Linked DNA regions of Homo sapiens: region 2 is linked to region 1. A link means that fine-mapping ties the variant in region 1 to the expression of a gene that starts in the linked region. Tissue or cell type: monocytes after interferon gamma. Region 1 holds a variant in brackets; the other region holds the start of a gene. All regions are shown on one strand. Distances are between the middles of the regions.

Region 1 (5,828 bases):
AACCAAAAGGTATAAAAGGAAATACAGTAAAAAATTTCCTATCATATCACTGTCTAGAGTACTATTCCTTATATATTTTCCTGATTTTTGAGTATTTTAAAATGTGAGTGTTGGATATGAGTGTTGGATTTAAAAAGTTTTATGATAATTTGTGTATATTTGTGTGTGTGTGTGTGTGTGTGTGTGTGTATAGTAGTCCAAGACTATCAGTTTATGAATAATAAGAGGAGACCCATGGAAAACCAGTCCCTTTGACCAAGTTCACTCAGATAATCAGCAGCAGGGCTTGGACATTAATTACAGTTATCCAACATCCTTTGAGGTCTCACATGACAAATTACAAATATGGAGTGTAAATGTAACCCACTTTGCTAGGCAAAAAAAGCCCTGTTTTTTTAAAAAATATATATTTTTGGCTTATGGGCAACAGAAGCCAGGGAGACGTACAGTCAAACCTCATTTCTCATGGCTTTCATATCTGCAAATTCTCCTACTCATTAAAAGTTATTTATAACTCCCGAATCAATACCCACAGCACTTTTGTGATCATTGGCAGACATGTGCAGAAAAGAAAAAAAAATTGAGTTGTTGATTGCACACATTCCCAGCTGAATTTCAACAAAGCAACACTCTGCCTTCCCACTTCAGCTTTCTTACTATATGTGTGTCCTTTTTCTGTTTATTTAGTACCATGTTTTTCACACTTTCGTTCTTTTTGGTGGTGATTTTGCTGTTTAAAATGGCCAACAAGTGTAGTGCTAAGTGCTGCGTAGGGTTCTTAAGCACAAGAAGGCTATGATGTGCCTTATGGAGAAAATACGTGTGTTGGATCAGTTTCACTCAAGCATGAGTTATGGCGCTATTAGCTGTGAGTTCAATGTTAACAAATCAACAATATATGCTAAAGTGTCTTTAAACAGAAACACACATAAAACAAGGTTATATGTTTGGTTGGCAAAAATGTTATAACCAGAAGCTTGCAGAAACCTAACCCTGTATTTCCCTTAAGAGCAATGGTTCATTATTCACTAATTCAATGTTTACAGCAACTTTATAAACTATAACTACCATGAATAATGAGAATTGACTATGTTTTAGATCATAATACCTGAAGTGAAGTTTTCCATCATGGTTTTTAGTTCTTAGAGTCCATTTAAGTTTTTTAAAAATATGATAGCTATCCTATCACATCCCACATTCTTGAGATTAAAAAATTAATCTTTTATTTGGTACAGAAAAGGCTCCTGCGTGCATTTTTGGAGGGGCTGGACCGCTGAGGAAGTCATGGTTGGCTCAAGTGGTTTAAATGCATTGCTAATTTCATAGCCTCTGAACCACTTATGAAACAATACTGATGATATGTCAGTAGCTATGTTTGCAGCTCCTTCAGGAATGCTTATATCTTTTACTGCTGGTAAAGAAGAAATTTATAGTAATAGATTTTTTTTTTTTTTAGATAGAGTCTCACTCTGTCGCCTAGGCTGGATTACAGCGGCTTGATCACGGTTTACTGCAGCCTGGATCTCCCAGGCTCTCCTACTGTAGCCTCCCCAGTAACTAGGGCCCCCACACAGGCATCACCACACCCAGCTCATTTTTTTATGTTTTATAGAGACAGGGTCTTACTATGTTTTCCAGGCTGGTCTCAAACTTCTGGGCTCAAGCAATCCTCCTACTTTGGCCTCCCAAAGTGCTGAAATTACAGGCATGAACCACTGCACCTGGTTTATGGTCATCTTAAGTAGAGACTTATGAGTGCGTATCATTGTATCACCAATCTGAGACTCAATTTTATCTTTCTGTTAATAGACAATGCAGTTTTTCTGTTAATTACAATGAAAATCAAGGGTTGCTTAGCAAGTTTTTACTCATAACTCCAAGTTTTGTGACTTATAGTGAGAAATGGGTATAATTCTTTGTGATTTGTTAAAATGCAGTATTTCGAGGAGGGATAACATATAAAATTTAACAGTTTCCTATCATTATTTTTATCCTTTTGAACCACTGTATACTACAGATAGACAAAGGCAGCTTTGGCCACTTACTCCTCAGTGTGACTAAGTTGACCAGATGTTTTCCAGACCACAGGTTCTGTCAAGAGACAGTGTGGAGAGAAATGGGTAGGCAGGTATGGAAAGAAGAGTCAGAAACAGATAGTGAGCTAATCTCTACAAATGGCTCGTTATGGCCTGAGCTGTGTTCTCCTCCCCGCAAAAAGATATGTTGGAGTCGTAATCCCCAGTACCTCAGAATGTGGCCTTATTTGGAGATTCGATATTTACAGAGGTAAGCAAGTTAAAATGAGATCACTATAGTGGGTCCTAATTCAATACGACTGGTATCCTTACAAAAAAGGGGAAATTTAACCACAGATACAGACACACACATAGGGAGAGTGCTAGTGAAGGTGAAGTCAGAGATTGGAATGATGTAGCAGAAGCCTAGGAATGCCAAAGATTGCCAGCAAACCACCAGAAGCTGGGAGAGCCACATGGAACAGATTCTCCTTCACAGTCCCCTGAAAGAACCAACTCTCCTGACACCTCGATTTCAGACTTCTAGCCTCCAGAGCTGGGGTCAATGAGCTTCTCTCATTAAGCCATCATCCAGTGTATGGTACTTTGTTACAGCAGTCTTAGCAAATGCATGGTTCCTCACTGGAACCATGAATTTCCATGCATTTATTTCATTTAAATAATAAAACGGATCCCCTTTGTGGCTTGTAGTTCTGTTCCATTTCAAAAATCCAGAAAAAAGATTTGTTCAGAAGCTAGAAATGATGAACTGGATCTTGCCCAAGGTCATAAAACCACAAAACCCTTTACAGAGCACAAAAGTCTGATTTTTCAAAGCTTCTCTCAAAAGATGGGTCACTCCTTAGTCATTTAGGCCACTGACAACTGCCCTGGACT[C/CTTTATTTATTTA]TTTATTTATTTATTTATTTATTTATTTATTTAATTTTTTTGAGACAGAGTCTTGCTTTGTCGCCCAGGCTGGAGTGCAGTGGCGTGATCTGAGCTCACTGCAAGCCCTGCCTCCCGGGTTGACGCCATTCTCCTGCCTCAGCCTCCCAAGTAGCTGGGACTACAGGCACCCGCCACCACGCCCGGCTAATTTTTTGTATTTTGTTTAGTAGAGACAGGGTTTCACCATGTTAGCCAGGATGGTCTCGAGGTCCTGACCTTGTGATCCACCCGCCTTGGCCTCCCAAAGTGCTGGGATTACAGGCGTGAGCCACTGCGCCTGGCCTGGACTCTTACATATAATAAGCTTGACTTATCGTACAACTTATAATTGATGCTTTCACGTCATGGGAAGATCAAATTAATGCAGAGAGCGACTACGTTTCTGGTGGGAGAGCAGCAGGGGTCTTGAGAGGAACAGCAGTGTTGACTGTTTCGCTACCTACTCTGGGTGCTGATTACATCTTTCTTTCGTGCAGGCAAATCCACTTGGAGCTATTTTGGGCTCACTGTGGGCATCATTCTTTGTATACTCTGCTCCTTTCCCCCATAGTTTCTCTATTGATGGGGGATTACTAAAGAATGAAGAAAAGAACAAAATGAAAGTGGCTTTTGAAAAATTTTAAATGACTGTCACTATGTAACATATTCATTATTTCATGTCTCCACTGGACATTTTGGAGATGTGAGCCTTGCAATACCTACATGAATGCTTCTATGATTATGATTATTGTTTTGCTCTTCGCCTAACAACTTGCCAAGTATTGTCAACCTCAGTGTGTGAGATGGGGTCCACTCAAACATCAGGGCCGAAGTCAGGTAGTTCAGTTAAGTGAATTTGATACCAGGAACTAGTTACAAAGGAGTTGGAAGGGCTGGAAAGCCAAACTGGAGAAGAAGGGGAACCCCAGAGTAACAATAGCAGGAAGCCTCTACCGTCTACCTCTAGAACTGGGGAGGAGCTGAGTTAACAGAGTCCTGGAGCCATTGCTGGGGAAGAAGAACCCCAACTGCAGAGGAAAAGTGGCCATTGTGAAGAAGGTGATGGTGGAGAAGTCGTCTGAATCAAAGGGGAGAGGATATGTTGGCTCCTTTATCTTTTTATCTTTCATTGTCCTAATTCCTTCTGGGCATGGTTAAATGAGCCCAGGAAATGCAGTTGGCAGGAATCAGCTTCCTGTGACATAGACAGAGTAAGAGAAGGACAAAAATAATGAATCTGAGAGCAAGCAGGCAAATGACCAGCACATTAAGCCTAGCACACAGTATGTTATACGGGATTTGGGGTAGCAAAAGATGAAGGCAGGTCAGAGAAGCCACAACTAGGGGATGGGCAAGGTCAATGAGGTATGACGGGTATTGTATACAGGAAGAGGGTCATAAACAGGAGTGGAGTCAATACAGGAGACTAACATATACACATCATAAATATTAGTAGAGAAGCATAAAATAGTCTCCTGGAGATCAGGGAAACAGGAAATTATAGGTTTTCAGGATAATTCAGCCATATCCAGGAAACACACACAGTGAAGTAACAAAGAGTCAATAGGCTTAGAGTGGTACAATTCATTATGCACATGTAGGAATTCATTCCAAATAATAGGCTGAAATGTAGACATGAGAATCCAAAAAAGATGTTTTCTTAGTTTTTGCCAATATCTTAGCTACGTTTTTTTTGGTTCAACAAAGTAAGTTAACAGTCATATCTGCTTGGAAATTGTATTTAGGCCAGGTGCAGTGTCTCACGCCTGTAATCCCAGCACTTGGGGTGGCTGAGGCAGGAGGATCCCTTGAGCCCAGGAGTTAGAGGCTGCAGTGAGCGACAACTACACCACTGCATTCCAGTCTGGGTGACAGAACAAAAACTTATTAAAAAAAGAAAAAAAAAAGGTCGGGCGCGGTGGCTCACGCCTGTAATCCCAGCACTTTGGGAGGTCGAGGTGGGCGGATCACGAGTCAAGAGATGGAGACCATCTTGGTCAACATGGTGAAACCCCATCTCTACTAAAAATACAAAAATTAGCTGGGCATGGTGGCATGCACCTGTAGTCCCACCTATTCAGGAGGCTGAGGCAGGAGAATCGCTTGAACCCGGGAAGCGGAGGTTGCAGTGAGCTGAGATTGCACCACTGCACTCCATCCTGTCGAGACTCTGTCTCAAAAAGAAAAAAAAGGAAAAGAAACTATTGAAATAGCTGATATTAGTTTGCTTACTTGTCGTTACTCTTTTTCATGATGGATTATAAAGAAAAGTTATAACTATTTGAATTTTCTGCTGATTTGAAGTCTCTATAAACAGTACATTCCTTTTTGGTACACAGAGGGCACTTATCTGCAAGAAAGGCAAAGAAAATGGAAAAGTTAATGAAAGAGGAATCATCCAATCCACGAACAGAATGAAACCACATACACAGTGAAGAAACTTGTCTTACATTTTCTTCCTTATATTACTTATCATTCATGGTAGTGACTACTTTGGGGCTTGAGTAAAGCTTCTCTAATTTATTCCATGTAGCATCATATGTGAAAAAGACAAATAGATACTTTAGACATGATAATAACACTTTATTTTTTATTTATTTGTTTATTTTGAGACAGAGTTTTGCTCTTGTTGCCCAGGCTGGAGTGCAATGGTGCAATCTCAGCTCACTGCAACCTCTGCCTCCTGGGTTCAAGCGACTCTCCTGACTCAGCCTCCCAAGTAGCTGGGATTACAGGCACGCATCACCACGCCCAGCTAATTTTTTGTAATTTTAGTAGAGACAGGGTTTCTCCGTGTTGGCCGGGCTGGCCTCAAACTCCTGACCTCAGGTGATCCACCCACCTTGGTCTCCCGAAGTGCTGGGATTATAGGTGTGAGCCACCATGCCTGGCCCA
Region 2 (5,000 bases), 740 kb before region 1:
GGTCACACTGTTTATGAGGACAGTACAGGAATACAGACATGCCATTTTGCCTGAAAAAATCCATCACCCAGGGAGGTGACACAATTTTGCAGAAATGTTCTATTTCCTCTGAAGGATACATTCTTTAAACCTTTGGGAAATTCATTCATAGTCTTCCTCCTTTGAAGGATTAACTCTCTGGACACAAAGTGTTTGATTCTGATTTGTTGGTTGGAAGATGTGTTGGTTGAGAGAAAGATTCTGATTTGTTGGTTGAAAATAGACTCATCAAGATCAACTGCTGTAGTAGTAAATATTTTGACATTTTGTCTGTATTCCTGTGCTGCCCTCACAAGCTGCATCACCTTGAGTGAGTCATTCATACTTTTTTGTTTGTTTTTGTTTTGGAGATGGAGTCTTACTCTGTTGCCTAGGCTGGAGTGCGGTGGCGTGATCTTGGCTCACTGCGACCTCCATCTCCTGGGTTCAAGTGATCCTCCTGCCTCAGCCTCCCGAGTAGCTGGGATTACAGGCACATGCCACCATCCCTGCTAATTTTTGCATTTTCAGTAGAGACGGAGTTTCACCATGTTGGTCAGGTTGGTCTTGAACTCCTGACCTCAGGTGATCCGCCCACCTCAGCCTCCCCAAGTGCTGGGATTACAGGTGTGAGCCACCGTGCCCAGCCCAGCCATCATTTTTGAAACACGTTTGAGAAATAGTGTCTTCCTTTGAGGGCCAAGGAGACATTTTTTTTGTTTATTTGTTTGTTTTTGTGAGGACTAGCTGAAGGGGGTGATGTATATTAACCTGCCTACTTATTTGCCTCTTCCCAGAGTGTGATGAATATTAGGGTTTAAAGTTTCTGAAGCATTTGTTAATAAAGCCCGGGGCTGGAGGTCAGAAGACCTGGATTTCTCTGCATACTTTTGCCATCAGCAAGCTGTGTGACCTTGGACAGATCCCTTTTTTGTCTAAATCTTTCTGAGTCTTCTTGAAAACAATGCCAGGTTGGGACAGGATGATTGCCAAGCTCCCGTCCAGCTCTAAAACACTGCAACGTATGCTTCTGCACCAGCACTGTCCATCCTGTAGATCATGCAGAAATTCTCTTCAACTTTTTCCTACCCATAAAATAGGAGCATGCTTACCTTTTTCCTAATGTTCCAGGCCCCGGGTCTAGAATATTGTAAGTAAGGAAGTTAATGTGTATCAGAGCCCATTATGGGCCAGAAGTTCTCCTCTTCCTTCCTACACCTGCTTCCTCCCTCCCTCCCTCCCTCTTTCCCTTCCTTCCTTCCATCCATTTGTGAAGAAGACATGATCACCCTCATTCTGAGAGTGAAGAGACAGAGGCTCAACTAATGAAATGATTTGTTCAAGGTCACACGGGTGGCACAAGGCAAGTGGCAGAGGTTGAATTTAGACCCATTCCTGTCCAAATGCTGAGTTTATGTCATCGTCCCGAGACCATAACTTTAAAGATGTAAGATAGTGGGAAAAGAGTTGATTTCAAAGCACCTCTCAGAAGGACTCACTTTACATCAGGGGTCAGCAGACTCAGGCCAAATCCGGTCCATTCCCCGCTTTTGCAAAGAAAGTTGTAGTGGAACACAGCTAGGCTTATTGATTTATGGATTGCCAACGTCCTTTTGTGAAACAGACAGCTGAGCTGAGTAATCGTGGCGCACAAAACCTAAAATATTTACTATCTCGTCCTTTACAGAATGTTTGCCAATCTATGGTCCGGAGTCCAAGGCTGTCCATTTTTCAAAGAACACAAAGTGACATGAGACTGTCCCATGTGCAGGGAGCCCTATCATTTTATTATGAAAAAACGGCCTTTCTGCTCAAATCTGTTTTTTAAAAAGTCAACAAACAGACTCTGGGTACCTGTCAGGAACAGTAGGGAGTTTGGTTTCCATTGTGCTCTTCTTCCCAGGAACTCAATGAAGGGGAAATAGAAATCTTAATTTTGGGGAAATTGCACAGGGGAAAAAGGGGAGGGAATCAGTTACAACACTCCATTGCGACACTTAGTGGGGTTGAAAGTGACAACAGCAAGGGTTTCTCTTTTTGGAAATGCGAGGAGGGTATTTCCGCTTCTCGCAGTGGGGCAGGGTGGCAGACGCCTAGCTTGGGTGAGTGACTATTTCTTTATAAACCACAACTCTGGGCCCGCAATGGCAGTCCACTGCCTTGCTGCAGTCACAGAATGGAAATCTGCAGAGGCCTCCGCAGTCACCTAATCACTCTCCTCCTCTTCCTGTTCCATTCAGAGACGATCTGCCGACCCTCTGGGAGAAAATCCAGCAAGATGCAAGCCTTCAGGTAAGGCTACCCCAAGGAGGAGAAGGTGAGGGTGGATCAGCTGGAGACTGGAAACATATCACAGCTGCCAGGGGCTGCCAGGCCCCAGAGGGCCTGAGAACTGGGTTTGGGCTGGAGAGGATGTCCATTATTCAAGAAAGAGGCTGTTACATGCATGGGCTTCAGGACTTGTGTTTCAAAATATCCCAGATGTGGATAGTGCGACCGGAGGGCTGTCTTACTTTCCCAGAGACTCAGGAACCCAGTGAGTAATAGATGCATGCCAAGGAGTGGGACTGCGATTCAGGCCTAGTTGAATGTGCTGACAGAGAAGCAGAGAGGGGCACCAGGGGCACAGCCCGAAGGCCCAGACTGATATGGGCAAGGCCTGTCTGTGCTGACATGTCGGAGGGTCCCACTCTCCAGGGACCTTGGTTTCCCCGTCTGTGACATCTGTGACATGAGAGTCACGATAACTCCTTGTGTGCCTTACAGGGTTGTTGTGAAAATTAAATGCACAGATAATAGCGTAACAGTATTCCGTGCATTGTAAAGAGCCTGAAAACCATTATGATTTGAAAATGGAATCGGCTTTGTGAGACCATCACTATTGTAAAGATGTGATGCTGATAGAAATGACAGGACTGCTTGTGCATGCCCTCTGCAGTGTGACATTCCAGCAGTGAAATCATGTTGGGGTGACTTCTCCCCCACTCTGACCTTTATGTTTGTCTGGGCCGAGGCTGCAAGTCGGGCTCTGTGGGTGTATGAGTGACAAGTCTCTCCCTTCCAGATATGGGGACTGTCTGCTTCCCTAGGTTGCCTCTCCCTGCTCTGATCAGCTAGAAGCTCCAGGAGATCCTCCTGGAGGCCCCAGCAGGTGATGTTTATCCCTCCAGACTGAGGCTAAATCTAGAAACTAGGATAATCACAAACAGGCCAATGCTGCCATATGCAAAGCACTTTGGTTTGCCTGGCCACCCCTCGTCGAGCATGTGGGCTCTTCAGAGCCACCTGATGAGGTGGGTACAGTTAGCCACACTTCACAGGTGAAGAGGTGAGGCACAGGTCCCAGGTCAGGCTGGCCAGAGCTCTGTTTATTACGTCTCACAGCTTTGAGTCCTGCTCTCAACCAGAGAGGCCCTTTACCAAGAAGAAAGGATTGGGACCCAGAATCAGGTCACTGGCTGAGGTAGAGAGGAAGCCGGGTTGTTCCCAAGGGTAGCTGCTCCTGCAGGACTCTGAGCAGGTCACCAGCTAATGGAGGAAAGGCTCTAGGGAAAGACCCTTCTGGTCTCAGACTCAGAGCGAGTTAGCTGCAAGGTGTTCCGTCTCTTGAAACTTCTACCTAGGTGCTATGGTAGCCACTAGTCTCAGGTGGCTATTTAAATTTATACTTAAATGAATGAAAATAGAAGAAAATTTAAAATCCAGACCCTTGGTCACACTATCCACATTTAAAGAGGTCAATAGCCACATGTGGTTAGTGGCCACCCTATTGGGCAGTGCAGCTACAGAACATTTTTGCATCCCAGAAAGTTCTTTTGGATGTTGCTGCTCTACAGCATGCTTTGCTGAAACAGAAGTGCCTTCCCTGGGAATCTCAGATGGGAAGCAAGTAAGGAGGGGAGTCAAATGTGGGCTCACTGCTCACCAGCTGTGAGGGTTGGGCCTGCCTCTTAACCATTGTCAGCCTCAGTCTTCTCATCCATGCATGCCGTGGGTATACTAAAATACTATACCCCTGGAAGAGCTGGATGCAAATTTGACAAGTTCTGGGGGACACAGGAAGGTGCCAAGCACAAGGCTGGGCACATGGTGGCTGTGCACTACAGCTGAGTCCTTTTCCTTTTCAGAATCTGGGATGTTAACCAGAAGACCTTCTATCTGAGGAACAACCAACTAGTTGCTGGATACTTGCAAGGACCAAATGTCAATTTAGAAGGTGAGTGGTTGCCAGGAAAGCCAATGTATGTGGGCATCACGTCACTTTGCCCGTCTGTCTGCAGCAGCATGGCCTGCCTGCACAAACCCTAGGTGCAATGTCCTAATCCTTGTTGGGTCTTTGTATTCAAGTTTGAAGCTGGGAGGGCCTGGCTACTGAAGGGCACATATGAGGGCAGCCTGAAGAGGGTGTGGAGAGGTAGAGTCTAGGTCAGAGGTCAGTGCCTATAGGCACAGTGGTCCCAGGGCCACAGCTGGGAAGGGCAAATACCAGAAGGCAAGGTTGACCATTCCCTTCCTCAAGTGCCTATTAAGGCTCCATGTTCCTATGTTGTTCAAACCCTAACTCAATCCCAAATTAATCCACCATGTATAAGGTTGAGCTATGTCTCTTATTCCTGGACACCATACTCAGCCATATTCTGGTCCACACATTAAACAAGCTGGATGACCTTGAAGAAGCTTCACCCACTCTGTTCCTCAGCTTTCCCTTCAGTGGGATGATATCAACTGGACAACAGGATGTGCGATTCTTTTAGTTCCAGCCTTCCAGGATGTTTTCACTCCCCTGTTTGTTGTTGTAGGATGGTATTACCTCCACCTTCCCACCTTCCCTATGCCCTGGTTCTGTCTCCTGTGCCTCGCTCTGAAAGTGGATGAGACCTACAATTCCTGTCCTGGTAGTTCTCCTAATGAACACACTGAAGCACGAGGAAGCTGAGATTTTTGTTGCTACATGAGAGCATGGAGGCCTCTTAGGGAGAGAG

Alleles and levels. Positions count from the first base shown, and alleles are read on the strand shown. Sizes are in standard deviations (SD) of each study's normalised expression.
In carriers of allele CTTTATTTATTTA in region 1, the expression in monocytes after interferon gamma of the gene that starts at base 2,168 in region 2 tends to be higher than with C alone (moderate effect, 0.63 SD a copy in Fairfax 2014).

The links. PIP is the estimated chance that this variant, and not a neighbour inherited with it, causes the effect.
Region 2: it holds the start of IL1RN, and the variant in region 1 is fine-mapped to the expression of IL1RN in monocytes after interferon gamma (Fairfax 2014, PIP 0.93).

Annotation. Positions count from the first base shown.
Region 1 is chr2:113,869,982-113,875,809 of GRCh38, forward strand. The region is part of intron 1 of ACTR3-AS1 (ACTR3 antisense RNA 1); the gene reads right to left. Among named protein-coding and RNA genes, the nearest start is that of ACTR3, 17 kb to the right of the region's middle. The variant C/CTTTATTTATTTA (reference allele first, on the strand shown) is at 2,913.
Region 2 is chr2:113,125,431-113,130,430 of GRCh38, forward strand. IL1RN (interleukin 1 receptor antagonist) reads left to right here and starts at 2,168. Exons shown (of 4, transcript NM_173842.3): 1 at 2,168-2,310; 2 at 4,146-4,234. The coding sequence starts at 2,195.